7 linked regions of the Homo sapiens genome follow. The protein of the gene in region 4 purifies or fractionates together with the protein of the main gene of each other region. This does not show direct contact. Each region holds a gene or a part of one and is shown on either strand. Other genes may lie near its edges. The genes, in order: WDR76, SLC9A3, PXK, USP48, CLEC3B, ZC3HAV1 and CMA1.

Evidence for each region.
Region 1: the proteins of USP48 (region 4) and WDR76 purify together in Homo sapiens (affinity purification with mass spectrometry; 2 studies listed by BioGRID). This does not show direct contact.
Region 2: the proteins of USP48 (region 4) and SLC9A3 purify together in Homo sapiens (affinity purification with western blotting; 2 studies listed by BioGRID, with this or other methods). This does not show direct contact.
Region 3: the proteins of USP48 (region 4) and PXK purify together in Homo sapiens (affinity purification with mass spectrometry; 3 studies listed by BioGRID and IntAct, with this or other methods). This does not show direct contact.
Region 5: the proteins of USP48 (region 4) and CLEC3B purify together in Homo sapiens (affinity purification with mass spectrometry, with the first as the bait; one large-scale study listed by BioGRID). This does not show direct contact.
Region 6: the proteins of USP48 (region 4) and ZC3HAV1 purify together in Homo sapiens (affinity purification with mass spectrometry; 2 studies listed by BioGRID, with this or other methods). This does not show direct contact.
Region 7: the proteins of USP48 (region 4) and CMA1 purify together in Homo sapiens (affinity purification with mass spectrometry, with the first as the bait; one large-scale study listed by BioGRID). This does not show direct contact.

What each region holds. Positions count from the first base shown.
Region 1 is NC_000015.10:43,864,486-43,869,065, forward strand, and holds the end of WDR76 (WD repeat-containing protein 76), read left to right. Parts: intron 1-1,642; coding exon 1,643-1,907; 3' UTR 1,908-3,927; downstream 3,928-4,580. UniProt on the Homo sapiens protein: Specifically binds 5-hydroxymethylcytosine (5hmC), suggesting that it acts as a specific reader of 5hmC.
Region 2 is NC_000005.10:472,160-476,328, forward strand, and holds part of SLC9A3 (sodium/hydrogen exchanger 3 isoform 1 precursor), read right to left. Parts: coding exon 4,043-4,169; intron 3,934-4,042; coding exon 3,861-3,933; intron 3,513-3,860; coding exon 3,402-3,512; intron 3,161-3,401; exon of another isoform or gene 2,978-3,160; intron 2,974-2,977; coding exon 2,724-2,973; intron 1,241-2,723; exon of another isoform or gene 1,224-1,240; coding exon 1,220-1,223; 3' UTR 1-1,219. UniProt on the Homo sapiens protein: Plasma membrane Na(+)/H(+) antiporter. Exchanges intracellular H(+) ions for extracellular Na(+) in 1:1 stoichiometry, playing a key role in salt and fluid absorption and pH homeostasis.
Region 3 is NC_000003.12:58,391,533-58,395,701, reverse strand, and holds part of PXK (PX domain-containing protein kinase-like protein), read right to left. Parts: intron 3,930-4,169; coding exon 3,855-3,929; intron 705-3,854; coding exon 600-704; intron 45-599; coding exon 1-44. UniProt on the Homo sapiens protein: Binds to and modulates brain Na,K-ATPase subunits ATP1B1 and ATP1B3 and may thereby participate in the regulation of electrical excitability and synaptic transmission. May not display kinase activity.
Region 4 is NC_000001.11:21,772,671-21,776,839, forward strand, and holds part of USP48 (ubiquitin carboxyl-terminal hydrolase 48), read right to left. Parts: intron 1-4,169.
Region 5 is NC_000003.12:45,024,996-45,029,618, forward strand, and holds the start of CLEC3B (tetranectin), read left to right. Parts: upstream 1-1,307; 5' UTR 1,308-1,367; coding exon 1,368-1,476; intron 1,477-4,623. UniProt on the Homo sapiens protein: Tetranectin binds to plasminogen and to isolated kringle 4. May be involved in the packaging of molecules destined for exocytosis. Plays a role in retinal function.
Region 6 is NC_000007.14:139,078,306-139,082,474, forward strand, and holds part of ZC3HAV1 (zinc finger CCCH-type antiviral protein 1), read right to left. Parts: intron 1,939-4,169; coding exon 1,165-1,938; coding exon of another isoform or gene 799-1,164; intron 349-798; coding exon 247-348; intron 1-246.
Region 7 is NC_000014.9:24,504,980-24,509,704, reverse strand, and holds CMA1 (chymase isoform 1 preproprotein), read left to right. Parts: upstream 1-1,439; 5' UTR 1,440-1,469; coding exon 1,470-1,527; intron 1,528-2,198; coding exon 2,199-2,349; intron 2,350-3,100; coding exon 3,101-3,236; intron 3,237-3,422; coding exon 3,423-3,677; intron 3,678-4,045; coding exon 4,046-4,189; 3' UTR 4,190-4,352; downstream 4,353-4,725.

The sequences.
Region 1 (4,580 bases), on a different chromosome or scaffold from region 4:
TGCATTTCACTGATTAGTGATACTGAACGTATTTTCATATAATTGGCCATTTGTATATCGTCTTTTGAGAAGTGTGTATTCAGATCTTTTGCCCATTTTTTAATTATTTGTTTTCTTTTTTTTTTTTAAACGGAGTCTTGCTCTTGTTGCCCAAGCTGGAGTGCAGTGGCATGATCTGGGCTCACTGCAACCTCCGCCTCCTGGGTTCAAGCAGTTCTCGTGCCTCAGCCTCCTGAGTAGCTGGATTACAGGCATGAGCCACAATGCCTGGCTAACTTTCCTATTTTTAGTGGAGATGGGATTTCACCATGTTGGTCAGGCTGGTCTTGAACTCCTGACCTCAGATGATCCACCTTCCTCAGCCCCGCAAAGTGCTGGGATTATAGGCATGAGCCACTGTGCCCAGCCAGTATTATGTATATTTATTTTATTTTTTAATTTTTAATTTTAATTTTTTGAAATGGAGTCTCCCTCTGACACGGGGGCTGGAGTGCAGTGGCGCGATCTCAGCTCGCTGCAACCTCCACCTCCCGGGTTCAAGCAATTCTGCCTCAGCCTCCCCAGTAGCTGGGATTACAGGCAAGCACCACCATGCCTGGCTAATTTTTGTATTTTTATTTTTTTTTTTGAGACAGAATCTCACTCTGTTGCCCAGGCTGGAATGCAGTGGTGCAATCTCGGCTCACTGTAGCCTCCATCTCCTGGGTTCAAGCAATTCTCCTGCCTCAGCCTCCCCAGTAGCTGGGATTACAGGCAAGCACCACCATGCCTGGCTACTTTTTGTATTTTTATTTTTATTTTTTTTGAGACAGAGTCTCACTCTGTTGCCCAGGCTGGAATGCAGTGGTGCAATCTTGGCTCACTGTAGCCTCCATCTCCTGGGTTCAAGTGATTCTCCGGCCTCAGCCTCCCTAGGAGCTGGGATTACAGGCACCCGCCACCATGGCCAGCTAATTTTCCTATTTTTAGTAGAGACGGGGTTTCACCATGTTGGCCAGGCTGTCTCGAACTCCTGACCTTGAATGATCCACCCTCTTGGCCTCCCAAAGTGCTGGGATTACAGGTGTGAGCCACTGTACCTGGCCAATTTTTGTGTTTTTAGTAGACTGGGTTTCGCCGTGTTGGACAGGCTGGTCTCGAACTCCTGACCTCAGGTGTTCCACCTGCCTCGGCCTCCCAAAGTGCTGGGATGACAGGCTTGGGCCACTGTGCCTGGCCATATTATGTATATTTTTAAAAAATTTATGTAGGGTGACTATTCTAGGGGGTAAGAATTTTCATTAATGATGGGGTCATTTAAGTGGCAGTGGGAAATGTGTAGTCCATACTTTAATGAAAAAGGATTGTTAGTGATATTAAGGCAAAAAGACTAAAAGGGCAGTACTTCTGTTTTTGCTTTTGGGAACTATAAAGGGCTCCATATGTTTTATTTTGGGAGATTTTTAGATGAGGAGGATATCGTCTCTGTCCAGAGGTTCAGTCCTGTAAGGATGAGGTAAGGTTGGTGGTAACTCAGTAACTTAATGAGAAGAAACTTGGCAGAGAAAACTAGCATTTAGGAGCAATGCCGTCTTTACCCTCTGCCCAATGCTACCTTATTTAACCTTACTTCATTTAAAAAATATATTGTTTTCCTCACTAGGCACAACACTTTCACTGGGCGATGGCTGACCAGGTTCCAAGCCATGTGGGATCCTAAACAAGAAGACTGTGTCATAGTTGGCAGCATGGCCCATCCACGACGGGTAGAAATCTTCCATGAGACAGGAAAGAGGGTGCATTCGTTTGGTGGAGAATACCTTGTCTCTGTGTGTTCCATCAATGCCATGCACCCAACTCGGTATATTTTGGCTGGAGGTAATTCCAGCGGGAAGATACATGTTTTTATGAATGAAAAAAGCTGCTGAGTTTTTGGTTTAGGAACATCAATTTGTTCAAATTGACCACTGTCTAAGGAGCCTAGTAATCGGCGTGCCTTAGTGTGTTTATGTGGTAATGTGTTACATTTAGCAATTATAACATTGTTTTATTAATAAGACTATAAGAAGAGTGTACTTTTAGTAAGGGAGAAGTCTTGGAGGGTTGCTTCTGCAGGACGGGGAGGGAATTTGAGGGGAGGCTGAGGTGCCGTCAGGACTTTTTTTTTTTTTTTTTTTTTGAGATGGAGTTTTGCTCTTGTTGCCCAGGCTGGAGTGCAATAGCGCGATCTTGGCTCACCGCAACCTCCGCCTCCCAGGTTCAAGCGATTCTCCTGCCTCAGACTCCTAAGTAGCTGGGATTACAGGCACCTGCCACCACGCCTGGCTATTTTTTTGTATTTTTAGTAGAGATGGGGTTTCATCATGTTGGCCAGGCTGGTCTCGAGCTCCTGACCTCAGGTGATCTGCCCGCCTCGGCCTCCAAAAGTGCTGGAATTACAGGCGTGAGCCACCATGCCTGGCCATCAGAACTTGTAATCAAGACAGTATGTTGAGAAATTCTAACATTATAAATTACAAAGCTTTGACTATTAAAGTTTTTGTGATCTAATGATACAGTTTTGATTCTATAGTAATTTGTGGCTTATTTTATAGTTTATAATGAATACTTATTTCTAGACTCATACACTGGAAGGGGACCCGGAAAGGTAATGTAACTCAGTGATTTTAAAACTTGATTTTTTTAACTGAGAACTTTTTTTGCCCCCTGCCTGTAGGTTAAGTCTTACGTGAAATGCCAAGATAATTGCTGAGCAGCTTTGGTTACCCAGGGCGGGGTCTGGGTCTGTCTGTACTTTGCCTTTACTCTAGATGGCTCCTGAGACACAGGCAGGACTCCCAAGCACCGGGTTGGGATCTGCCCTGGTCCCGGCATTCCAGTATAAGATTGCCTCAGACCTGTGTTTTTCAGACTGGGTTTTTGCTCTTCACATGAAATCAAGTTAGATGACAATGACTGGTGTTGAAAAAAATGAAAAGGAAAGAATTTGTAAAGAACAGAAAATATATTTGAGTAAGTATTGTTTGGTAAAACTTAGTTACATATGCATATATATTTGTTAGGTATATATGTTTATGTGTATTCTGATGTAAAATATATATATATATATATTTTATTACTATAGTACCATGGGTAATGGATAAAGAAGTTAAAGCTACTGCTTAGAATGAAGAAGGCCCCAGGCTTACCTGTCCCGATCTTTAAACTGTCCGAAGGAAATTCAATAGCCTGTTAAGTGAATACCTTCATTCTTACTTGTATTTGGGGGAATATTATGAAATACTCACCACTTTTGGTATTTTATGAAAATGTTTTCTTTTCAGAAGTTATGGTAATTTCAATGTGTTTGTTGTTGGGAGGGGAGCTGCCAAATCAGTTACTAATATTACTGTGTGACATCTATCCAACTTTTTTCATTATTCTTCATTGCCAAATACTGAAAGACTTGTAAATGGCTTTGGCAATATGTTTGAATTCTAAGAGGAAATATTTTCCCATAATTGTATATCAGAGAAATATAGTGATATACAATTTCCTTGAAAACCAATTTCTAAATAATTTTCTTCTCTGTAATCTAAGTGTAAAAAGGTTTAGTTTTTTAATAGGTTTAGGTGTTTATAAGCAATAGTTCTCTATTTTCTAGTTGATATAAGTAGAAGAATTGACAAGTGAGATGGAAATGTTAATTTATAAAGGGAAAGAAAAGCTAGGTGAGGTTGAGTTATAATTAAACTGTTCAGGAAACATCGTAAAGGCTTTAGGCTCCCTTTTTCATTTCTATACCAATTAATCTCATGGGTTCTAGAGTGGTTAGTTCTACGGGAATTGTTTTTGTTTTTGTTTTTAAAGATGCTGAAAACTACTCTCAATCAAATTAGTACCATCATTTAAGCTTTGAATACTTGGCAGTAATTGCCTGGGCTCGTCAATAAATGTTAGCAAATTCTTGATGTTCCTCACTTTTGTGGTTTCTTTTGCCATTGTGGCTTCATAAACAGTGCTATTTATATTCAGTTATACTTTATAGAGTTATATCTTCAGGCAGTGCAGGAAGGAAGGAGAATGAGTAGGGACTTTTTTTTTTTTTTATTGGTGATAAGCTTTCTAATGGAGTAATTGTTTAAATCTAGACAGCACATAAAAGAAAATTGTCTCCCTTGGGACATTCTTACACTGTAATCTGTAGTGAAAGGTACTTCTCCCACAGACTTGCCTACAGCTGTGTGGCTTCTGTAATTATGTGTGTATTATGATTGCCTCCTTCGGGATAAGCCTTTTCTGTAAGTTTGGCCTTTATGATATCTCTTAAGCTCTGAATTCCGCTTGAGTTTTTTTTTTTTTTTTTTTTTAAGATACCCAGGCTTTTGTTATGTAACTTTTAAGGAAGGAGCAGACAATTCTCATTTTTGGTTGTCAGAGACTTTGTCAGACTAGGAGAGACCACAAATGATTAGGAATTAATAGAATCTGAGTTGCTTAAGTCCTATTTTAGTATTCTGGTCTTTGAGCTTCCTTTCCACCAAGAAGATTTTGCAAGGGGAGTTCTCCAGGAAAACAGGGAGCCTTAGGGCTATGGATACAAGGATTTAAATCCTTTCAGC
Region 2 (4,169 bases), on a different chromosome or scaffold from region 4:
CCACTCAATGGACTGTGCCTCCCAGAGCTTGGGCTGGATGGTCTCCCTGCAGAGGACCAGGAGCTCTGTCCAAGGCCTCGCCCTGGGACGCTGGAAGGGGTGGGAAGGGTCAGGGGTCCGGGGTCTAGGACAGGCTCAGGGGTCTCAGCAGGTTCTCCTTGGAGGGCCTGAGCCTGGTAGGGGGGCGGTGCCCTGGGCCCCTCCATGCCCCCTGGTTTGTTAAGGGGGACAGAGCAGCTGCTGGGCCCCACCATCCACTTAAGGACTGGCCGTGATTCTTGGCAAGCTCCGCCCGCCAGGCCACCTCTCACCCAGCCAGGGCACCCCGGGCGACCTCCGCGCCAGGTGCGACAGCTCAGGCCGGAGACCTCGTCTGTGGGGACGGGCCGTGTCCGGGGCCGCCACCCTGAGACCGGGCGCGGGCAGGACGGAACCTGGGGGGGAAACGGGGCAGGTACTGGCTTTAGGAGTCTAAATCCCCAAACGCTGAGCAGACGGAAGACGTTCCTGCCACTTTACCTGCAGTTCAAAGACCTGGCGAGGGCCTGGAAACGGCGCTCGGCCCAGGCCGCTTGCGGGCGCTGGGCCTGCAGCCGCTGCAGGTCGGGCCCTGAGTCCTGGCGCTCGGGAGGTCCCTGAGTCGGTCCCCGAGTCAGTCCCCGGGCGCGGGGCTCGGTTGGGGGGGCCCGGAACCTTGGGCTGGTTTCACGCAAATCCGTTTGGGGCGAGCCTCGGTTTCCCGGCAGCGGTGGGAAAGGGCGCGAGCGGCCAGCCATGGCGCGCGGACCCTTCCCGCCGGCGGCGTCACAGCGGCGTCTCCTCCTGCTCCAGCGCGTGCGGCGGTGCGTGGCACGAGGGCGGCAGCGACGCCAGCTTCAGCAGCGCGGGGCGGCGGCGCGCGCGAGGCCGCTGGAACGAGCGCCGGCTGTGCACGCGGCGCGCCGCCGCCGAACGCGCGTGCGCACTCGGCAGCCCTCGGCGCTCCGGCCCCGCCCCCGGCGCAGGCCCCGCCCCCGGCTCGCCCTCGGGCGGCTCTGCGGGCGCAGGCGCGGCACTCTCGGAGTTCTGCGCAGGCGCTGGCGTGGGCGAGGCGGGGCTCGGGGCTCGCGGTCGCTGTAGCCGCGCGGGGATCTGGGGTTTCTCTGGGACAGCGGCGGCGGCGGTGGGCGGACCGTGGCGCGGGGACGAGCGGCCGGTTAGCGGCGTGTCGGAGCCGGTGTCACCTGCGGGAGAGGAAGGCGTGAGCGGCGCGCGGAGCCCGGGCGCTGGGGCGGGAGGGGCGTCCCCGGGGGCCTCAGCTGTCCCCGAGCCCGGCGGCTCTCGCCTCCCCTCCCGCGGCGCACCCCAGGCTCGGCGTCCGCTGGGGCCTCCTCCCAGGACCCGGGTTCGCGGGGCAGAGGCGGAAGCAGCAACAGCGAAGCCCCAGCCCGGCCCCGCCACGTCCCCCCGCCGGGGGTCCCGGGACAGCGGCCTCCTCGGCGCAGGAAGGTCCCGCCCCAGGCCCTGCAGCGCGGGAGGTCAAGGTCCCCAAGGGGACCTGCTTCCTCCATCTCAAACCGCCCTGGCGTCCCCCGGGTGCCTCCCAGGCCCCCAGAGGGAGCTCAGAAAGCCCAGACCCCACGGCCCGCCCCTCTCCCTGCTCTGAGCTGGAGGCAGAGTCCGGGTCTGCGGGGCCGGCCCTCCCTGTATCCCTGTGAGAGGGTCGGGGACCCGGGGCGTCTGTCTGGCTTCCCCCAGCCCTGCTCTCAGCTCCCTGGGAGCGCAGGATTTGGACTCGCGGACTAGCTTTCGGAGCCACCTAAAGGAAATCTCAGGCGGCCCTAGTGCCCTCAGCTCCGTGGGAGCAGCAGAGACGCCAGAGTATCTCTGTCCGGGCTCCTGAGGGAGGTGCGGCCAGCAGGGCGCTAGAGGAGGAAGAGGGGCTGCTGGAGAGAGAGAGCGCGCCAGGTTCAGGTCCAGGGAGGAGAGAGAGCGAGCGCGCGAGGCGGAGACCTGGAGGGAGAGGAGCTGCGGAGAGGGGTTAGGCGGGGAGGGAGAGAGAGAACCAGGTTCCGGTCCAGGGAGGAGAGAGACAGCGCGCGCGAGGCGGAGACCTGGAGGAGAGGAGCTGCGGAGAGGGGTTAGGCGGGGAGAGAGAGAGAGCGAGCCAGGTTCAGGTCCAGGGAGGAGAGAGACAGCGCGCGCGAGGCGGAGACCTGGAGGGAGAGGAGCTGCGGAGAGGGGTTAGGCGGGGAGGGAGAGAGAGAACCAGGTTCAGGTCCAGGGAGGAGAGAGACAGCGCGCGCGAGGCGGAGACCTGGAGGAGAGGAGCTGCGGAGAGGGGTTAGGCGGGGAGAGAGAGAGAGCGAGCCAGGTTCAGGTCCAGGGAGGAGAGAGACAGCGCGCGCGAGGCGGAGACCTGGAGGGAGAGGAGCTGCGGAGAGGGGTTAGGCGGGGAGGGAGAGAGCCAGGTTCAGGTCCAGGGAGGAGAGAGACAGCGCGCGCGAGGCGGAGACCTGGAGGGAGAGGAGCTGCGGAGAGGGGTTAGGCGGGGAGAGAGAGAGCGAGCCAGGTTCAGGTCCAGGGAGGAGAGAGACAGCGCGCGCGAGGCGGAGACCTGGAGGGAGAGGAGCTGCGGAGAGGGGTTAGGCGGGGAGGGAGAGAGACAGCGCGCGCGAGGCGGAGACCTGGAGGGAGAGGAGCTGCGGAGAGGGGTTAGGCGGCGGGAGGCCCGGGAGCGTTACATGTGTGTGGACTCGGGGAGGGCGGCGGGGGGCCGCTCCTCGGGGCCGTCTGCCTGCAGGAAGGAGTCCACGGACTTGCTGCTGAGGCGGAAGGGCATCAGGCGGCAGAAGGTGCCGGGAGAGTAGGGAATCTGCGTGCGGGCCCTCTGCGAGGGGACCACCGTCTCCCCGGGAGACAGCCAGGGCGGCAGCCTGGCCAGGAGGCTGCGGTCCAGGGCCTCGTCCGGAGAAAACACAGGGTTGTCAATTCCTAGGAGAGAGGGCAGCGGCTAGTCAGCCTTCGGAGAGCCCCACGGCGGCAGGGGAGACCTCGCCGGGGCCGTCACCTGCTGGGTGCCTTGGAAAGTTAGGGTCACCGGGAAGGTTAGGGTCACGTGCCTTTCAGGTTGCGGGCCCTTCCCCCACATCCATGACCCCACACGCCACAGGCAGCACAGGTAACGTCTCGCTTCCCTCAAGACATACCCCACCTGCTCCCTGCCCGGCCCACGTCTCCCCGGACAGCAGCCTCCGAGTTGGTTGAGGGGGCACTCAGTGGGTGCCAAGCAGGGCCCTTGAGAACCCACAGGAGACCCCACCCCCCCAGGTCCCAGTGCCCCTGGTCCAATGACCGAGCTCCCTCCTGGGGCGGCAGGAGCCACCCCTCCCTTAGCCACGACGCCTGTGCCCCGTCCCCACCTGCAGGGGAGTCGGACGCTGTGTCCTTGGTGACACTAGCCAGGAACTCGATCCCCCCACTCATCTCCTCATCATAGTTGGGGGGCTCCTCGGTGTCTGAAAGTTCCAAGTCTGGGGAAGACAGGTTGGGGTGAGGACTGGGGTCACTGGGGGGCTGTCCTCACAGCCCAGTCAGCAGTGTCCATCAGCTCTGTGCACAGAGGTGCAGGCAGTCGGGACCCACAGAGAGGAGGGCTAAACCGCAGGGCTGGAGGAGGGACCCCACTTAGAGGGCAGTGTCCCTGGAACCCCATCCTGGGTGGGTCTGCAGCTGGGGCCCTGACCATGCCTCCCCTGCCTGGGTGGCTGGAGGGTCCCCAGAGGGGAAGGTCCTGAGAGGGGAGGTTCCCGAGCCGGGAGGGCTGGGGCTGGGAGGTGGTGGCTCCCAGTCCCAGCGTTCCTGCAGGGCCCCCAGCGCACCTTTCTCCTTGATGGTGAAATTCTGCGCAGGGCTCTCCATGGGCAGCTTCCCATTGGGGATGCTGCTGTTTCTCTGCGGAGCAAACGTGAAGCTGCTCACACCCCGACACAGCCACACCCAGCCCTGACTGCCCCCGCTCCAGGCCCCAGCCCCGCCAAGCCTCCTGGTGACCCAGCCTTACCCGCTTCTGGGCACGCTCCCGCTTGTACAGCTTGGCCGCCTTCTTGTTCTGGTTGAGCCCCAGCTTGGTCGACTTGAAGGACTCCAGGCGCTTCCGCATGGTCCTGTGGAAGATTTCCCGGTCCTGT
Region 3 (4,169 bases), on a different chromosome or scaffold from region 4:
TTAGGGTTGCAGTACTTCTTTAGAAATGGGTCTTTTGGTTTTGCCTTTGGAAAAGAACAAAGAACACGTAAGAAAGCAGCAGAGGGGCCAATATCTGCACACAGACTCCCTGACCAGGCAGGATTCTACAGAGGCTAGGGGCGCCAGAGATGGCCAGCTGCAAGATGTGAGTTTTTAAAATACGACAGTCTGCATTGTTGATAGAAAGAGGCTGACCCAGGTTCCATCCCTTCTCTAGCCCAGTGAAGATGTGCCTGGTCTTGCCCTTAGCAGACCCCAAAGTCTTGCATATTGTTCGAATTCTTCAGAACTGCTTTGTTAAGCGCAAAACACAAACTTAAAAACTGACCTAAGAGAACAGCTTGCCATGTAATGGACATAATTATTAAATGTTCAACCTTTCCTCACATGGGAAAAGGAATGCTCTTTAACCAAACTAAGTAGAGTTTTTATTGCATGAATAAAAATAAATTCCAAATAAAATCAAAACTAACATCAAATCCTCAGGGCCTAGCCTCTGGAGTCTTAGAGACTAAGTATCAATAACAGGTTCTAAAGGAACTTGAGAATTCCTTATGACCATGAACTTGCACAGGTACCTTGTAGATCAGATCCTTCAATGTTCCCTTTTCGTTAAACATCCTAATTAGCAACGCTGAGGATTCATTAGCTGTGGCAAAGGTAACCCGATAGATGTAAGGGTGCTGTCAAAACAAAAAAGAAATTCACATTGATTTGCGTCAGGATCTAGGTCCTTTTAAATACAGGATCTGGTTATGCAGAGTCAAGTAGCACTGTGGTGGTTTAATTGCATACGAATGTAGTGATATTCCCTGAACACATGGCATTTTCAAGTTATTCAGTTACCAGCTAGTTCCTCCTTCTTCAGATGGAGGAAGGGACATAAACTGTAGGAACAAAGGAAAACAGGAGACAGATAATGGATGTGGTAAACTCCACAAGTGAAGGGGTCCTCTTTGGTGTGTGCACTCTCATAGCTCAGGCAAAAGTGTGGTGGAAGAGATAAAATGTCTGAGTTTTGAGGATAATAGTGTTAATATCCTGTCTCTGTAAGTCAGTAAAGAATACAGCCAAATCTCAGAACAGCCAAATGGAGACCAGGATCAATGTGTCTTTGCTCACAGCTTTGCCTAACATTCCACACTGCTGTTTGGGTGCCAAGCCAAGAAGCATACTAGCCAGAAAACAGGCAAAAGTAGCATCTTCTGGAATCTCAGCCCTTTCCACAGTAGCTGGCATGAATCTTCCTACCCTTCTATAGAATTCTGCAACATAAAGATTCACAGTGTCCTCCTCAGATGGAGAAACTGACATTAAGCAACTGGGGTGGAGAAAAGACAAATTATTTAATGAGTGAAAGGAAAGTGCTGTTTTTCCCTGGAATTCTGGTTACGTGAAACAAACTGGGTCCAGACAGGTATTACAATGTTCACTAGCTCAAAGGAGTATCATGAAAATTTAAACCCATGGGAGCTGAGCTATGCAGGGATTTTGGAGGCTGGCATGCAGCAGGTTGGGGGGTGGAAAGGTGTACCCAGGAAAACAGAGTAATTGATCATGAAGTTCTCCTGATCATCACATCAAAATGGTTGCTGCTGACTTTTTAACAGCTTTGTTGAGATATAATTCACATGCCATTACTATTCACACATTTAAACTGTACAAGTCAATGATTTTCAGTATATTCAGTTATACAACCATCATACAATCTAATTATAGAACATTTTCATCACCCCAAAAAGAAACACAATGGGTAGAATAAAAATCCTTGAGTACATACTAATATAAATTTTTTTAAAAGGGAGAAGAGAAGCTCTTTAGAGTAGAATGCCAACTAATAAGTAAATACGGAAGGAATAATAGAGTTAGAAAATCACATTAAATGTTAAAATGCTAGTGGGCTTCATAAAGAACAGAATATGTAGTGTCACAATATCTCCTTACACATTGGTTATTAATTATAGGTATTTACCTTAAGAAATTAAGTATGGGTATAATGTTTAGCAAAAATTGTTCATTATGGCTTTTTTCTTTTTTAAAAAATAAGAGCAAAAAGCTGGAGGTGATCTAAATGTCAATAGAAGATTGAGTAAACTAAGGTATAGCCAATGATAATTCTATACAGCCCATAATAATGATGCTATATTTACTAACAACTAAAGATGCTCATGGTACACCATTAATGAAAAAAAAATCAGGTTTTAAAGCACTACATATATAATTTACTTTTTTATCATAAAAATTCTTAAAAAGTAACAACTGAATATTTTGGTTCATACTTCTGTTTGACTGGGATTACTGGTGAGTTTTCTTTTCTTTTCTTTCTTTTTTTTTGAGACGGAGTCTGCTCTGTTGCCCAGGCTGGAGTGCAGTGGCACGATCTCGGCTCACTGCAAGCTCCGCCTCCCGGGTTCACGCCATTCTCCTGCCTCAGCCTTCCTAGTAGCTGGGACCACAGGTGCCCACCACCACGTCCAGCTAATTTTTTCTATTTTTAGTAGAGACAGGGTTTCACCATGTTAGCCAGGATGGTTTCGATCTCCTGACCTTGTGATCCATCCGCCTCAGCCTCCCAAAGTGCTGGGATTACAGGCATGAGCCACCACACTCGGCTTATTTTCTTATTTTTGCTTATCTGCCTTCTGACTTTGCTACAATTAATATGCACCATTTTTATGTGCTTCTTTTTTTAAAGAAGCACTTCTATTAAAAGAAATTTAGGGCCGGGTGCGGTGGCTCACACCTGTCATCCCAGCACTTTGGGAAGTCGAGGCAGGCGGATCATGAGGTCAGGAGTTCAAGATCTGCCCGGCCAACATGGTGAAACCCCATCTCTACTAAAAATACAAAAATTAGCTGGGTGTGGTGGCATGCACCTGTAATCCCAGCTACTTGGGAGGCTGAGGCAGGAGAATCGCCTGAACCCAGGAGGTGGAGGTTGCAGTGAGCCGAGATCGCACCACTGCATTCCAGCCTGGGTGACAAAGAGAGACTCCACCTTGAAAAAAAAAAAAAAGAAATTTAGAACTAGGTCCTGACAGCCTATGTCACACAACCAATCAAGCTCTAAGACTAAAGCGTCTTTTTGGCCTCACATTGCACCTCATTAATAGCTTGGTTTGCAAGCTTGACAAGACACTATATGGCCAAAAATAAACTTGCCAAACCAAGTGCACAAGTCAGTGTAATTGTGTTCAGTTCGCTAGTGATTCATTCCAGGGAACTACATCTTCATGCAGACAAGATAAAGAATGTCAATGTTAACTCAATTTCCTGGCCAGATTAGTCTTTGCTGAAGACATTCTGCACATATTTTGAAATATATCAACGTGGTTCTTTGCACTGAAGGCCCTGGATTAGAGCTGTGTAGTCGTGTAAATAATATCATGTATTCCTAAAGGTCATCTGGTTAGCCTGTGAAGGTAGTAACTCAGACAGAAAAATGGCTATTTTGCCTTTTCTTCACCCAGCTTATCTAAATTCCTCATTAGTTCTGTTTTCTCAGGCTGGAAAGAGTATCTTTCAGTTCCACTGAGATAAATACCTTCACCAAGAACAACAGGCTGGGAGAAGTAGCTGCTTCCCTACTCTCATCTTTGTTTAAAATTCAAAGTCTGTATTTAAATTACTATGTTTCATGGGTTGTGCAGATGTCATGAATGCCATTTCAAATAGCCTATGATCTAAGAGATTAGCCCTACACAATTTCAGTCTGACCTGAAATCCACTGTATCTCCCCATTCTGTTTTCCAGCTTTTCTGTCCATGTTCACCCAGAAAAAATACTGTGACTCTATCATCAGCACTGAGAATAAAAGAAAGACGTATACTCACCAAACAAGAAGGCAGAAGTTTGATTAGACACTGAAAATCTTTATCTGACAAATACTTGTCTGGGCCAAGGTCAGCCTGAAAACATGGAAGGGAATATCAGGGTACTGTTTTGGTCACCAAAAGAAAAATTCCTTGTCTTTCCCTTTAATTTTATTATCCAAAATATGACTGGAAACCAAAGACGAAAACAACACTAAGTCTGGCTGCCTCAAGACCTTTCTGGAGAAGCAGTGTGTAAAAATACCAGACTTAACTGTAATCTTATCTAATTCCACTAACCAAATCTATCACTAAAACTCTCAAAGTCAAAGAGAT
Region 4 (4,169 bases):
CAGCACTTTGAGAGGCCAAGGCAGGTGGATCACCTGAGGTCAGGTATTCAAGACCAGCCTGGCCAACATGGTGAAACCCCGTCTCTACTGAAAATACAAATGTTAGCCAGGAGTGGTGGCACGGACCTGTAATCCCAGCTACTTGGGAGGCTGAAGCAAAAGAATAGCTCGAATCTGGGAGGCAAAGGTTGCAGTGAGCTGAGATCACACCACAGCACTCCAGCCTGGGAAACAGAGCAAGACTCTGTCTCAAAAAAAAAAAACCAAGAAAGAAAGAAAGAAAAAAAGAAAGAAAAAAGAAATATTCGGCCGGGCGTGATGGCTCACGCCTGTAATCCAACACTTTGAGAGGCTGAGGCAGGCGGATCACATGGTCAGGAGTTCAAGACCAGCCTGGCCAACATAGTGAAACCCCTCTCTACAAAAATACAAAAATTACCCAGGCATAGTGGCAGGCACCTGTAGTCTCAGCTACTTGGGAGGCTGAGGCAGGAAAATCGCTTGAACCCAGGAAGCAGAGGTTGCAGCAAGCTGAGATCACACCACTGCACTCCAGCCTGGGCAACAGACTGAGACTCGGTCTCAAAAAAAAAAAAAAAAAAAAGAAAGAAATATTCAATAAGCTCTTGAAAATCAGTAAGAAAATGACCAACAATCCAGAACACACAATTCACAGGAGAAATACAAATGGCAAGTAAATATAAAAAGGAGAAGGGACACAGTGGCTCACGCCTGTAATCCCAGCACTTTGGGAGGCCAAGGCTGAGGATTTCTTGGGCCCAGGAGTTCAAGACCGGCCTGGGCAAAACATGAGATCCTATCTCTATAAAACTAAAAAATAAAATTAAAAAGATGCTCAATGTCACCAGCAAAAAATGGCAAATGAAAATAAGATGCTATTTTTCGCTAATCAGATGGAAGCTGGGAATAGAAATGCTTTGTATAAGGTAATAGGCACACTCACTCTAGAGGACCAGGATAAATGGTATGAACTTTTGACATCTATCAAAATTCTAAGCAGTCCCTTTACCTCAGCAATTTCTCATCTAGCAACCTAAGTGAAAACACTCACTCAACACTCAAGATCGATGCAGAGGGCTGGCTAGGGCAGCACGGGTTGTATTATCAAAAACCGGAAACCCCAAAGTCCATCAACAGGAAACTGGTTAAATAAATTATAATGAAGGTTAGGCACAGTGGCTCACACCTGTAATCCCAGCACTTTGGGAGGGCAAGGTGGAAGGACTGCTTGAAGCCAGGAATTCAAGACCAGTCAGGGCAGCAAAGCAAGACCCCATCTCTATTTTTAAAAAACTATGTAACTGGCTGGGTGTGGTGGCTCTACTAAAAATACAATAATTAGGTGGGTATGGTGGCATGCGCCTGTAATCCCAGCTACTCGGGAGGCTGAGGCAGGAGAATCACTTGAACCCAAAAGGTGGAGGTTGCAGTGAGAGCAGATAACGCCACTGCACTCCAGCCTGGGTGACAGAGCGAGACTCCGTCTCAAAATAATAATAATAATAATAATAATAATAATAATAATAATAATAAGGCAGGTATGTATTTGGGGCTCCTGCTAAATGAGATTTTAGCTTCTCTTGCCACACACAAAATTTGTAACTGTGAGATAACAGATGTCAATCTGCTTCATTACAGTTACCATTTTACTATCTGTATGTATGCTATGTTATATATCATAAACATACATAAGAATATTTTTTAAGAAAGAATAGGACCGGTCGCAGTGGCTCATGCCTGTAATCCCAGCACTTTGGGAGGCCAAGGTGGGCAGATCGCGAGGTCAGGAGATCGAGACCATCCTAGCCAACACAGTGAAACCATATCTCTACTAAAAATACAAAAATTAGCCGGGTGTGGTGGGGCGCCCCTGTAGTCCCAGCTACTCAGGAGGCTGAGGCAGGAGAATTGCTTGAACCCGGGAGGCAGAGGTTGCAGTGAGACGAGATTGCACCACTGTACTCCAGCCTGGCAACAGAGCAAGATTCTGTCTCAAAACAAACAAACGAAAAAAGAATAGCCAGGTGCGGTGGCTCACACCTGTAATCTCAACACTTCGGGAGGCTGAGGTGGGCAGATCACCTGAAGTTAGGAGTTTGAGACCAGCCTGGCCAACATGGTGAAACCCCGTCTCCACTAAACTACAAAAATTAGCCAAGCATGGTGGCCCATGCCTGTTGTCCCAGCTACTCCGGAGGCTGAGGCCCAAGAATCACTTGAACCTTGGGAGGCGGAGGTTGCAGTGAGCCAAATTCACGCACTGCACTCCAGCCTGGGCAACAAAGCTAGACTCTCTCAAAAATAAATAAATAAATAAATAAATAAATAAATAAATAAATAAATAAGGCAGCTCTACATGCATGAATAGAAACAAGTTGCAACAAAGTATGTATTGTGACTCCCCTTTGTTCTTTTTCCTTTGAGACAGGGTCTTGCTCTATCGCCCAAGCTGGAGTGCGGTGGCATGGTCTTGGCTCACTGCAACCTCCACCTCCCAAGCTTAAGCCATCCTCCCACCTCAGTCTCCAGTGTAGCTGGAACTATGGGTCCTCGTTAGGGTTATTTTGTTTGGTTGGTTGGTTTTTATTGAGACAGAGTCTCACTCTGTCACCCAGGTTGGCGTGCAGTGGCTCAATCTTGGCTCACTGCAACCTACACCTCCTGGGTTCAAGCAATTCTCGCGCCTCAGCCTCCTGAGTAGCTGGAATTACAGGTGTATGCCGCCACCATGCCCGGCTAATTTAGTAGAAATGGGTTTTTGCCATGTTGACCAGACTGGTCTCAAACTCCTGACCTCAAGTAATCCTCCCACCTCGGCCTAACAAAGTGTTGGGACTACAGGCGTAAGCCACCGTGCGTGGCCCTCATTAGGGTTTTGGGACTAGAGCTACAAAGCCACTGAAGTAAGGTGGCATGACACTGGCTTTCTAGAGTGCTTCACACATTTCTGTAATGTTTTAATTTAGTAATAGTCATATGATGTTTCCCTAATGAGAACAAAACAGACATTGTACTCCCTATACACGGCTGGAAGCATAAGTAAATCCAGCCTTTGAAAATTCATATCAAGGCTGGGCATGGTGACATGCACTTGTAATCCCAGCTATTCAGGAAGCTGAGGAAGGAAGATCCCTTGAGCCCAGGAGTTTGAGACCAGCCTAAGCAACATAGTAAGACCCCGTCTCAAAAACAAAACAAAACAAATTTCACATCAAAAGATTAACTGTAACAAAAAGAAATTGTAACAAAATAAATACATATTAAACATATGAAACCCTTTGCACTTAGATCAGAAAGTGTGACTAACACATTATGTTGGTGAGGGTATGATGTATATGTAAGATACTCTTACACATTGACAGGGAAATGTAAAGAGAAACCCTCATTCTGAGGGGCAATTTAGCAACATGGATCAATATGAAAAACACACATCCCTTACCCAACAATTTTACTTCCAGGAACTTACTTGACCACCAACCTCACTGTTAACAAACAAGTCTGCCCTCAAGACACATAATATTTGCAGAATTCTGTGGACAGAGGATTTAGTACACACTGCTTTCATCCTGTGATTGCCCTAAGTACTTTCAGAAATGTAAACAGTCCTGACACATGTGGTCTTTGAATATGGTCAAACACCTCATTCTTCAGCTTTGGTATCTCATAACAAATTGTTGCATAAAGTATGAAAAATACATATTGGTGATACTATTTATTTATTTAGTCTCTTCTTGCAAAGAGAAGAAATAAACAAAAGGAGAAAGGCTCATGTCTGGAATCCCAGCAATTTAGGAGGCTGAGGAGGGAGGACTGCTAGAGCCCAGGAGTTTGAGACCAGCCTGGGCAATGTGACAAGACTCTGTCTCTATAAAAAAGGAGAAAGTGAATAGTGTCTTGTCTCAAAAAAAAAAAAAAAAAAAAAAAAAAGAAGAAAGTGAGTAGAAAGAGAGCTTTTTGGATATCTAAATAAAAGCTGACAGGGCCAGGCACAGTGGCTCACGCCTGTAATCCCAGCACTTTGGGAGGCCAAGGCGGGGGGATCACTTGAGGTCAGGAGTTCGAGACCAGCCTGGCCAATATGGCAAAACCCCATCTCTACTAAAAATACAAAAATTAGCCGGGCGTGGTGCCTGCAATGCCAGCTACTC
Region 5 (4,623 bases), on a different chromosome or scaffold from region 4:
CTGAAGGCTCCTTCAAGCTGGCTCTGTGTCCTACTGACGTGTTCCCATTATTCATTAAGCACTTCCTTGTTTTCTGGCAAAACAACAAGTTCCGGGCTCATTTTCTGCACCCCACTCCTACTTCCCAGTGCTAGAATCAGCCGTTTCTGCAAGGTGCTCTGGTTCCTTTAGTGGAAAGTCATATTCAGAAGCCAGTATTCAGGTGCTAGGAGTGCTCCAGGCTATGCGGGGCTGGCTGCTCCAGGCCCCCCAGTGACTGTGGGGACTAGACACACACACATTTCCATCTATATATATGGACTTATCTTTATGTATTCAAGGCCACAAGGGTACACTGATCATTCCGATTTTAATCCCACACAACAGGATTCATTCCAGTTTTCTCTCCATATACATAACTTCCTTCTCTGACAATAGGAAACCTAACTCCCACTGTCTTCAGTAGATTTATTTGATCAGTATCCCTGTGTGTAACCAATCTCCCGTCTCTGCCACCAGCCTCTCTCCCACATGGATCCCCTCCTTGCCTCACTTGGACTCCAGCACTCCAGGCAGGGCCTTTGCTTTCCCCAGGATGCTCCCTCCACCCTGCTGGGCTCCCACACCCCACACCAGTCCACCCCTTGAGGGCACATTCTCCCCACATCCTCTCTGGTACCTCTGGGGCACGATGGCTTCTCCCTCCGCCACCTTTGCTATGCCCCACTTTGTGGCTTTAGGACAGGACTCAGGAGAAAGGGAAGACAAGAAGGGAAGGAATCCCTTGGATTTTTTAACCAAAAAATGCATCAAGTACATGGAGACAGAGCCACAAAATAATCATAACAAATATTCTAAACCAATCAGACAGCCAGCCCCAGATCACCCTATAAGGGGGCATTGCTACCCCGTGACAGCTGGGTAGCCTGGGCAAATTCCCTAACCTCACCGAGCCTCAATTTCCTCAATGGTAAAATGGGGAAAGGACAGTGCTTCCCTCGTGGTTTGGGTGTGAAGCTTCTGTGAGTTAATGTTAGTGAACAGCCAGCCTCAGCCCCTACCCAAGGTAGCTGCTCCGCAGATGTGATGACAACCACCGTGTGTTTCTCAGAATCCTAGGAAATAAGGGCTTCTTTCTAGAAGGCAGGGCCAGGATGCTGCGTGGGTGTTCCCTGGCAGAGAGGCTCTGTGGCCCTCAGGACTTCATCCTTCTGCAGGCTTGTGTGTTTGTTTTATTTTTTTGGCACGCCTGCAGCCAAGTTGGGGAGGGTTTCCTGGACAGAGGTCCTTTGGCTGCTGCCTTAAGACGTGCAGCCTGGGCCGTGGCTGTCACTGCGTTCGGACCCAGACCCGCTGCAGGCAGCAGCAGCCCCCGCCCGCGCAGCAGCATGGAGCTCTGGGGGGCCTACCTCCTCCTCTGCCTCTTCTCCCTCCTGACCCAGGTCACCACCGAGCCACCAACCCAGAAGCCCAAGAAGATTGTAAATGCCAAGAAAGGTAAGGAGGGGGACAGAGCCCTGTGCCATCTTCCAGGGAGCAGGTCCCCCTCTCCTTAGTGTGTCCTCATGCTCCTTTCCTTCATTTTCCTCCTTTTGAGTCATCTAGGGAACTTGAGTAAAGTGGGCTTTGGGGCTTGGGGGAGTTCTCTCATAGCAGAGTTGGTTGTCAGAATCATAAGAATCCCTGACCCTTAGAGTTGGGAAGAACCTTCCAGATCATCCAAACTGATCTTTGCTCTTCTCTCCTCCCCTCATCCCCAATATTTTAAAGAAACCAAACCTTTGGCCTGGGAGTCTGGCAGCGCTCAGCCCTTACCAGGGAGAGCTGCACAGGCTGGGCTTTGGAGTCTTCCAACCTGTTTTCTCAACTGTAAAATGGGGACAGTGGTATTTGTTCAAAGACTTCTCATGAAGATTTTATGATACAAAATATATAAAGGCACCTCACTTGTTGCTTGATGCACAGGGAAAAGAAAAAGAAGAAGAAATGAATTCTCATTTCTGTAGCATATCACAGCCTTCAGGAAATAAATGTAACTCAGACTAGTCCACCAGAAGCAGCTTTGCTCTGCTTTGTAGCCTCTGGGGATTGGGGTGTCCCTCGGTTGCTTTGGCTACAGCAAGACTTGCCCTTGCAGCCCCGCCTGCAGTGAGGTCACCCCAGGCTGTGTTGAGACAACATCAGTGGAATGTCATGGCAATGGACGGGGCTGTCACCCCCCCAGGGAGCAGAGGCTAGAAGAGAGTCCAAGGGGATGAGGGTGGGGACTGAGGCAGAGAAACAAGCAGCTAGGACCAAGGGCACAGAAAAGGAAAGAAGGGGCTGTGGGGGCCTCCCTTAGGCCCTCCCGGGGCTCTTCATAAATGGACAGTTGCCCACTGGCCAGGAACTAGTGCAGTGCATAAAGGGACATCGGGGCCATGGGGCCTCACAACACTGTGACAAAGAATGGGGCAAATCTGGCTGCTGATAAAAAAATCATCTTCAAGATTCAGTTTACAAAGTGAAAAAAGAAACATTCAAAAGAGAATGAGTATGATGCTGACATTTGCTTTGAAAAAGGGATTTATATAATAATACATTTTTACTTGTATGTGCATAAGTTCTTTCTGGAAGGATCCACAAGAGTGAGTAACAGTGATTACCTCTGGGAAGAAAAACCAGGGGCTGGGCGCAGTCTCAACTGGGAAAGAAACCAGCTTTTTGAACTGTTTGGATTTTAAAAAATTATGTGTGTATATTACCTTCCACAAAATGTTCATTTAAAAAGAGAAGACAATACCGTGCATAGTTACGTCTATGAGCATTAGCCAAAATCGCCACCAAGGGAGAGCCTTTGTAAAAGATGCAGCTCCAAAGGCAAATCATAGAATTTTTGAATGTGGAAAACCATCGCCAGCTTCTCAAGTTTACCAAAGATTCAGTATTAATATAATTATGTAAATCTTTTTAAACTCATGTTAAAAAAAAAAGGGTCAGAGCACGTGATGCCTTGGTTCTCTCCAGCTGTCACACTTGAACCCTGGCCCTATGTGGTCTCCATAGAAGGGGCCCCTGGAGTTCCAGGGCTACAGGCCAACAGAACAGCCACCCAGGCCCTGCCTCTCGCTGAAACCCATGGCAGTCTCCCGCCCACCAACATGGCAGGCACTTATAGAGCTCTTTCTCCACGTAGGCACCAGTCTATATGCTGGACACACAGCAGAGAAACACCGTCTCTGCTCTTAAGACATGAACCATGGTGGTTCTCACTCAGGCATCAACATCATCTGGGAGATACATTAGAATCCAGGTGCCTTGGCCAGGCGTGGTGGCTCAAGCCTGTAATCTCAGCACTTTAGGAGGCCAAGGTGGGAGGATCGCTTGAGGCCAGGAGTTCAAGACAAGTCTGGCCAACATGGTGAAACCCTGTCTCTACTAAAAATACAAAAATTAGCTGAGTGTGATGGTGTACACGTGTAGTCCCAGCTACTCAGGAGGCTGAGGCAGGAGAATTGCTTGAACCTGGGAGGTGGAGGTTGCAATGGGCCGAGATTGCACCACTGCACTCCAGCCTGGGTGACAGAGTAAGTGAGACTCCGTCTCAAAAATAAATCAATAAATAAAATAAAAGTTAAGAATTCAGGTGCTTGGGCCCCACCCCTGGAAATGCTGGTTTAGGGATCTTGGTGAGTTTAGCATCTGCCTTTTCCACAGGTCTTCAGGGATTCCTAGGAGCAGCCAGGAATGAGAATCTCAGGGGCAATCTAGTTGCAGGGCTGGTGCCCAAAAGTACGGGAGAAAGTCCAAAGAAGGGACGGTCATGCCAGAGGAGACCAGTTGGTGCCAGGGCCAAGAGGGGGAGAGCAAGTGGCAGGACTGGCAAAGGAAGGGAATGCCAGCATATGCTAAGTCCTTGTCCTGGCCCTCAGGGTGGGTGAGAAGCGGGGAGCCTAGAGTACTTCTGGGAGCTCATCTGTTCTTGGGGCCACATGGTCACACCTGGCAGGGAAGCTCCGGAGGGAAGGATGGCCTCATAGGAGTCACAGGCCTTTAGAACAGGGAACTGGGGGAACCTGGAGGGCATCCATTCTAACATCACGCAGAAGGAACCTGAGGCTCAGAGAGTGGGCCAGCACAAAGGCCTCCTGACTCTGCCCAGGGCCGTAGAGACACCTACTCCCACAGCTTCCTCAGGTGGAGCTAATGAGAGTAGCTTCCTGTACCTTGGACAGTCCCTGGAGGAAACTTTGCACATATGGGCACCTTGGTGCAAATTACAAAAGGTACCTCCTCTAAACTGACAAATTATAGAAAGGCATCTCTTTTTCTGGTCTGACCCACTCTAGCCAGGGCAAGGCTTAGGAGACAAATGGGCCTTCATGTGTCCCTCAGCAGAATGCCCTTCTTCAGTGCCCCCTTGCACAGCCTCACATGGCACCCTATGCTGGTACATCACGTGACTGGGTACAGTGCTGCTATAACTGGTGGAGGCAGTCTCTGTGTGAGGCACACATGACCTCAGGCTGGTTTGCCAGCCCCAAACTCTCCCTTTTTTTGCCTTGCTCATCAGGGTGTTTTTGCTCCAGTTTGGTAAGTTACATCGCTAATTTCTATATACACAACCATGTGTCTTGCCTGTGATTCTTCTGCAAAGGCACCTTA
Region 6 (4,169 bases), on a different chromosome or scaffold from region 4:
AAATTTGAACGCTTGTGCATTGCTGGTGGGAAAGAAAAATGGTATAGCCACTATGAATAATAGTTCCTCAAAAAAAAAAATTAAACATAGAAGTACTATATGATCCCCCAACTCCACTTCTGGGTATATATCCAAAAGAATTGAAAGCAGGGTTTTCAGAAGGCATTTGCACACCCATGTTCATAGCAGTGTTATTTACAATGGCCAAAAGGTGGAAGCTTACAGAAAAGTCCTTAGGTTACTCACCATTAAGCGGACAACCCTTACACAGATGGTCAAGACAAATTTCCTCTGAGTCATGATCATCCACCCTAGAAGATGTGGTACTTGTGACATCAGATAAAGAATCTATGAAACAAAAAAGGATGCATGTATGCTGATCTTAATGTTTAAACCAAAAATCAAAGCACTTGGTCTCACAATGGGAAAGAATATCTGAAATGGGGGCCATGTTCAAGAAAATTCCTATGATTTATGTTTTGCCCATGAGCATCTAGACAGCCCCTCCATAAAACAAAAATGTGGACCTCAGAGTCCTGTGAAAGCTATGTTTATTTCTTAAATCATAGTTGAAATATTCCTATTGTCAATAAATGTGGCAGTTTATTCCCTGTGGTTCTACTGGTTGGCCCTTCCCTGTCTTCACTAGTCAATCTCCTCACCAGACCACCCCATAACCAAAACCCTCTAACTCTCTACCCTTTAAGAACTGGGGAACATCCAAGGAAAAACCACCAGCCATAGCCACTCTGCTGCAGACTCAAGACACAGAGGCCCCTTTGTCCTTCAGTGACTTACACTGAGCAGAGCCTGTTGTCTTCCTTGTGAGCTCGCTGGCAGAGGAAACAGGAACCTGGGTGCAGTTCTGCCCTTGGGCCCCCCAGACTGCAGCTCTGTTGCTTGAGGAAAGGGCAGCAGGTGACTGAGGCAGAGTGCTGACTTGTGCAGGGGCAGTGGATTCCCCAGGTGTGGTGGGGACCAGGTTCCTCAGACTCTGACTTCCAGTACGTAACATATCTTTTTCTGCCTTGACTGCCATTGTTAAGCCAAAACCAGTGGCACCAGTTTTTTCTACATCAGTAGTTTTATCCACTACTTGACTAGAGCCATTTGGTATATCATGAACAAATGTACTAGCCCAAAGTGTCTTCCCTTTGTATTTACCGTTAACAAGTGCTACTCTTGGGTCAGCATCATCTGCGATTCTGCCAGTGGCCTGGACATCTCGGGAAGCAGGTCCAGCATCCTGAATCCTAGGTGATGATATTTCTCTGTGACCGCTGCTAGTGCTTTTGTAATTTAAGGATCTGGTAGAAGTTATATCTGTGGCCACTCCATCAGCATTATTATTAAAAAGAGGGCCAGGCTGGATGTCCTGAGTTCCACTTTTGCCATTGATGATCCTGTAGTCTGAGGAAAGCAAGCCTGTGCCCTTTCTGGTGGTCACAGCTTCAGGTGTTTGCAGAGAGCCAAGAGAAGAGCGGGCGGCAGGTAGCGTGGGAGAAAACACAGTCTTTCTCCTGGCGCCTTGGTCATTCGTCCAGGATGTGAGGCTCTTCCAGTTGGGGGCTGATGTTGAATTGGAAGCAAGGTAAGTGCTGCCTGGATTTCCATGCAAGAGGTCCTCTTGACTGCCGTTCTCTAAAAACCTCTGGCTTGTCCCGGCCTGACTTGTTCCTCCAAGATCAGTAGCCTTGGACGAGCCTGAGGGAGGCCGAGCGCGATCCTGACTCCCCAGATACGTGAACTTGCGGGTGAGATCGTCCACAGGCGCGTCCTCCAGGGAAGCCCTGTGGCTGATCTGATCTGGACTAGGTGTGCAGGACCTCTCAGCAGACGCTGAAGCAGACGCAAGAAATTCTTGGCTGCCCTGAAAGAACCGATCTCTACTCTTGCTTCTAGCCCTATATGCCATGTTTCTACGATGTGAAGAAGGAGCTAAGGGGAAAAAAAGCCAAAATGAAACAAAATAATGAACATTGGAGTTAATGTGACTGAGTTCCTACCACCCTTCCTCCTCTTCACTTTTGTAGCTTTGCTATCCAAGTGCTATCAAATTACTTGGCGTAATCTGATGTGTAAAAATCTTGAAGATGGGTGGTTTGACACTGACGGTTTTTTTTGTTTTTGTTTTTGTTTTAAGAGATGGAGTGTTGCTCTGTTGCCCAGGCTGGAATGCAGTGGCCCGACCACAGCTCACTGCAAGCTCGAACTCCTGGGCTCCAGCGATCCTCCCACCTGAGCCTCCTGAGTAGCTGAGACTACAGGTGCTCACCAACTGTGTCAGCTGATGAAAGAATCTTGACATTCTGCCTGCACGGCAGAGCACGTCATTCCATGGCCTAGGATGACAGTGAGGATCAGCTCTAGGATGACAGTCCCCGGCTCTCTTCTGGGACTCAAAGTAGCCCCCAAACCCCAAAACTTTTAGGTGGGGCTGTCCACTATCTCCTGGTCCTGAGTCAACGTTCATCACTGGGGTCAATGGAGAGATAGATTAGGGCAAATCAGAGAAGATTTTCCAGAAAGCATTCGATTTTGCCCATATCGTGATACGGGTGTACCTGGCTATTGACAGATTCACAATGCTCAAAGAAACCAACAGAAAATGAAACCACAGTCTAAAGGCCTGACTTTGTTTAAGCTGGAAATTTTTCCAGTTTTCTTCATCTCACTCCATAAGGCCAAAGTATATCAGAAGTCAACATCGACAAAGCAGTGTGGCCTGCAGGGAATTGGCCTTCCTCTAGAAACTTGATAGGTCACACCCTTCTGGAAGCAGGGAGGAAGGAAGGAGTTAGGGTGTGTTTGTGAGCGCGTGTGGAGTGTGTGTGGCGTGCATGCACGTGATGTTTATGTGGGGTGTGTTTGTGTGCCGGGGGTACATGTGGAAGATGTGCATGTCTGTGTTTGAGGCACATGTGCACGTGTGGTGTGTGAATGTGAGGTGTGCATGTGTGCTCGTGTGTGTGTGTGAATTGTGCTTTTTTGTGTGGGGAAGGGGTAGAAGAGACATTTTTTTTCTCTTCCAAACCCAGGGGGCAGTAGTTATGTAGTAAAAGCAAACACCCTCCTCCTGTCAAGAAAAGGCTTAACTCAGGAGATTAACTGGAAGTGAAAATATATACAGATCTTTCTCATTCACAATAAGTTTACATTGAGAAGCTACCACCAAAACCCATCCCTCCAGACATTCCTCTGTTCAGAGGGAACTGTAGTGAGAGAGAAAAAGCATTAGATATGGGATCAGAACATGCACTCTGCTACTTTCTAGTGATGTGAGGCCTTGAAAATGTTACCTTTTATTTCTTCATTACATTATCCTTCATTCTTCTAAAAATGAGCTGAGGCTGCTTGCAATAAACATTGCTTACTATTTCTGAGCCTCAGTTTCTTTACCCTCTTAAGTAAGGCTAAAAAATGACATATCTACCTTTCTTTGTGGTTTCACTGTGAGGAACAATGATGAAATATTTATTTGGGATGAAAGTCCCTTGTAAATGATAAACCATTTCCCAAATATAAGGAGGTTTAATTGTTCATTAATTTGCACAGAATCCTAGAATCATGTATTCTATCTGCTTCATAAAATTCATCTTTCCTACATCCACTTCATAAAGACATTAAAAATGAATGCCATTATATAATATGAAAATGCTTCAGAAATAGCAGCACTTGGCTGGGCATGGTGGCTTACGCCTGTAATCCCAGCACTTTGGGAGGCTAAGGTGGGTGGATCACTTGAGGTCAGGAGTTCAAGACCAGCCTGGCCAACATGATGAAAACCCGTCTCTACTAAAAATACAAAAATTAGCTGGGAGTGGTGGCAGGCACCTGTAATCCCAGCTACTTGGGAGACTGAAGCAGAAGAATCACTTGAACCCAGGAGGCGGCCGGCCATTGCAGTGAGCCGAGGTCGCACCACTGAACTCCAGCCTGGGTGACAGAGTGAGACTCTGTCTCAAAACAGGAAAGAAAAAAAAAAGTAATAGCACTTCATACTCCTTAGGATGGCTATTATTAAAAAAAAAAATCAGAAAACACAAAATGATAGAGGATGTGAGAAATTTGAACCCATGTGCACTGCTGGCAGAAATGAAAAATGGCACAGCTGCTACAAAAAATGGTATGATCGTTCCTCCAAAAATTAAACATAGAATTACCATATG
Region 7 (4,725 bases), on a different chromosome or scaffold from region 4:
ACAAGGACACTTAAGAAGACCAGATTTGAAAAGACATTACGGATGTGTTTAAATGTCTTATTCTAGAGAGAGTTAGAGCTGTAGGTAGAACTTGGGAAATTAAGTTAAAAGCAACAGAGGACCTGGCCAATATATACTAAGGAGTGGATCACTCTGGTCACAAGCCCAACCTGAGACCAAGGGCATAGTGAGATGATTTGGGAAAGGCACTTATACACTACTCATCCCCGTCTTTGAACTAAATGCCTTATAAATCTCCAAGAGAAATGACAGTCCACCATGTGGACTGCTTTCTGTAAGTCCAGGGAAAATAAAAGCTATGTGCTTGAAACCCACTTCTGATATTATAAGGTGTGTGATCTTTGTCATGTTAATGGGTCTGAGTATCAATTCTACAATTGTAAAGTGACAGTAATGGTGTGTCCCCAGGTTGTTGTGGAAAGCTTGATTCTTAATGCAACAGTAGGAAACCCCAACCTCTCTGGAGCAAACACCCTTCTACATCTTTACTTCCCCTGCACATTGGCAGGACTCTATTCCTCTATTTCTCTCTAGTGCTAGAGCAGAAAGGGACCTTGATTTGATATCAGGAAAATCTATTTCTGAACCATAAGCTATGATAGCTGATTTAAAAAATTGACTATCATGACATGATAATGATCATAATGGTAATACATATTGATAGGGTTGCCGTGAAAGTAATAATATATCTAAGAGTTGTGACAATATATGATACACCTAGACTCTCAGAAAATGCTAATTCCAATCCCAATTGCTCTTTGCATAAAGTTCTGTCCTAGGGTCTGTTCTTTTCCCACATCTACCCTCCTTGGATCTCTCTTCTGTCAAAAACATGTGGTTCAGAGGAGGAGAGAGATCCAGGTCAATGTTTTTCAAATTACAAGGAATTATCATTTAAATGGGGTTGTTGCTCAAGTTTTGACGTGTAGTGGAATGGAGTGGAGTGGAGTGGAATGGAAACTAACAGAAAACACTGCACATGGTTAAGATAAAGATTGTTTCCTGAAACCTTTAATTTGTGCTTACATACTCACACATACATATGTGCATGCACTGGGACTCTGCAATATGCATTTCTGACTATGGAACATAGCCATAAAAGTCTTTGCACTGAACGTTCAGTGGGCCTTTCACAAGCTGCCCTAATTGGGAAAGAAAAACATGGTCCCTCCATTTCCTGCCCCCAACTCCAGAAAAGTCACCATAGTTGAGGGTACATCTGAGAAGCCAGCACTTGGGAGTTCAGGGCTCAAGTTCCTTTCTAGAAAAACACTGGGTGATTCTAGGGGAACTTCTGATCAGAAACAGCCAATTCAGAGTGAGAGAAGAAAACGTGACCATGCAGTTCCTGTGGTTACCAGCCTTGCCCCTCTCTTGCCTTCTGGGAGTTATAAAACCCAAGACTGGAAAGGAAAACCAGCATTTGCTCAGGCAGCCTCTCTGGGAAGATGCTGCTTCTTCCTCTCCCCCTGCTGCTCTTTCTCTTGTGCTCCAGAGCTGAAGCTGGTGAGTATCAGGGTTCTTCCCTCTGAAATCTGCAGTATCAGCTCCTGAAACAAAGATGTTTAGTCTGAAAATAGCTGACTCCTAAACAGGGTTCCAAGATCTCTCTTCAAGAGTCCCAGAGGGAAATTTCCACTTGGGATGTGTGCCACCCCACCCCCACCCCCACCCACTGCCATTCTCTACAGCCTAGGACAGCCCCCAGGAACAAGGAATTTCACCTCAATTGTAGAAAAGCCCAGAGCAAGTGGAAGGAAAAGGGGTATCCCCAGGAAAACAGACATGTCCTCTTAATCTTCTGAGCATCAGGGCTACCCATTACTTTGTGACTTTCTCACTCTGTGACCATGCTCAAGAGCTATGGAGAAATCTAAAACAGGAACCTGGACAGTGGGTCCTACACAGAGACAGAGGAGGGTGGGCCAGGGCAAGGTGGGAGTGGGAGAAGTCTGAGATGAAAACATCAGAATGGAGCAGAGGCAAGAATGAGATTTCACCTGGGAGGTTATGGGTGGGGAAAGATACGAAATACAGGAGACAGGAGAGGGAAGATGGGCGGAACACAGGGTGAGAATGAGATTCCAGGGAAGCCTAGCTCAGCTTTAACCCAATTTGTCCATTCATTGGAGAGAGTATCTATGGCCGTGTTCAAACCCTGGGGTGCTCTGTTCCAGGGGAGATCATCGGGGGCACAGAATGCAAGCCACATTCCCGCCCCTACATGGCCTACCTGGAAATTGTAACTTCCAACGGTCCCTCAAAATTTTGTGGTGGTTTCCTTATAAGACGGAACTTTGTGCTGACGGCTGCTCATTGTGCAGGAAGGTGAGACAACAGGGTCTATTTATCTCCAAATGGGAGATGAACAACCAGAGTAGCATCCAGGAATACACCTGCACTGGGGACTGAAGAGGGGGTCCTGGGTCTTGTCAACTTTCAGGAGAGGGAAGACTTGGGCTGAAAGACTTTAGTCTGTGTTTGAATAGTTCCTTGAGCCTCAGTCACTGTGAGCTAAGCTCCCCTTCGGAGGAAAAGGAGGTCCTGTCCAAGGTCCCTCTTGTTGCAGTAGCACCCCTCACCCCTACCCAACTCAAGACACACGGCTCACTTTTCAGGGCCCCACCCAGTCTCAGGGCCACTTCCTCTATGGCCTTTTCAAGAACACTGGCCTCTAGTTCTCAGGGTCCTGAACCCATCATTTTATGGGAGGCAGAGAACAGGGTCTACATGAGACCCCCACTTTCCCGTTTAACTGATATCTCCTGCTTCAGGGGCTGGCCCTCATGCAGGGTTCCCTGAATTAGGAAGTGTGAACCCTGTCCCCTGAGTCCTCCCTGGCCTGTTCAGTCCCCAGCAATTCCAGGGGTCGTAGAAATTGTGTCTGTTTCCTGAGAAAGCTCTTTCATGAGTTAAGCCTGAGCCCTCAAATGCCACAAGTGGCCCATGAAAAGGGAGATGGGTAGAGTCCGGCGACCCAGTGACAGAGTTTAGTCCTCTTTTCTCAGAATGAGCTCACCTCAGAAGAAACCCCAAGCCATCACTGTCGCTCCTTTTCCTTCCTTCTTCCTCACAACAGGTCTATAACAGTCACCCTTGGAGCCCATAACATAACAGAGGAAGAAGACACATGGCAGAAGCTTGAGGTTATAAAGCAATTCCGTCATCCAAAATATAACACTTCTACTCTTCACCACGATATCATGTTACTAAAGGTGACAACACCTCTCTTCTCCCTTTCCACTTCCCATTCTCCTAAGCTTCTCCTTCAGGTCCTCATTGCCCTGAATTTTTCTTAGGACTTGGCTATAACATGAAGCTACTCACCCTGTCCCTCCCTGATCACCTCCAACTGTCCAGAGCCCATTTCGAGGACTGACAGTCCTTCATTCCCTTCACAGTTGAAGGAGAAAGCCAGCCTGACCCTGGCTGTGGGGACACTCCCCTTCCCATCCCAATTCAACTTTGTCCCACCTGGGAGAATGTGCCGGGTGGCTGGCTGGGGAAGAACAGGTGTGTTGAAGCCGGGCTCAGACACTCTGCAAGAGGTGAAGCTGAGACTCATGGATCCCCAGGCCTGCAGCCACTTCAGAGACTTTGACCACAATCTTCAGCTGTGTGTGGGCAATCCCAGGAAGACAAAATCTGCATTTAAGGTGATCCTCCAACTAGGTTTCCTCTCCAAAACTCACTGTTCAGGGACCAGAATGCTCTTAGAAGGAGATGGGGTCAGAAGGTTGTCAGTCAGTGACAGGGTGAGCATCACAGGAATTGCTGTCCTCCCGTGGTCCAAGACAGCCTCTGACCATCCATTCCAGTCTACTGCACTGGGGGCATGGGGTGATGTGGAGAATGTGGATGACGGTCCCAAGAAAGGAAGAAGGGGCATCAGAACTAGATGTATAAGTGAGGAGCTCCACCTCCTGCGTCTGACTTTAGGTCTCACTGTGACTCCAAGCTGGCTGGCAGACAGGAGTGGAGGACTTCCCGGGCTCACCTTCTTCTCTCTCTCCTCCCCCTACAGGGAGACTCTGGGGGCCCTCTTCTGTGTGCTGGGGTGGCCCAGGGCATCGTATCCTATGGACGGTCGGATGCAAAGCCCCCTGCTGTCTTCACCCGAATCTCCCATTACCGGCCCTGGATCAACCAGATCCTGCAGGCAAATTAATCCTGGATCCTGAGCCAGCCTGAAAGGGAAGCTGGAACTGGACCTGAGCAGCAAAGTGTGTGCCACTCATTCTGGTCTACCCTTGGTCCCTCAGCCACAACCCTAAGCCTCCAGAAGTATCCTACAGGTCACAGAACTCTCAATAAACCTCAGTGAAGACACAGCTTCTAGTCGTGAGTGTGTGTCCCCTCTCTGCTGCTCTCTTCTCCCTGCACATAGTGACCTGATTCCCAGCCCAAGCACCCAAGGATTTGGAAGGGGTTTGTGTGTGTGTGTGTGTGTGTGTGTGTGTGTGTGTGTGTGTGTATGGGGGGGGAGGGAGAGAGAGAGAGAGAGAGAGAAATAGAGAGGAATTAATGAAGAAAAAAAAATGAGGAAAAAGAAGAGATTTTCCCTGGAAAGGCAGGATCCATATTTCCAGCTTAAGAAAAGACACCAAATCCTTCTTTGCCTTAATCATCAACCCTATACCAATTCTGATTTATCTTTAGTAATATTCAGAAGCACTAAGAACATTTTCAATTATAAGCAAGATA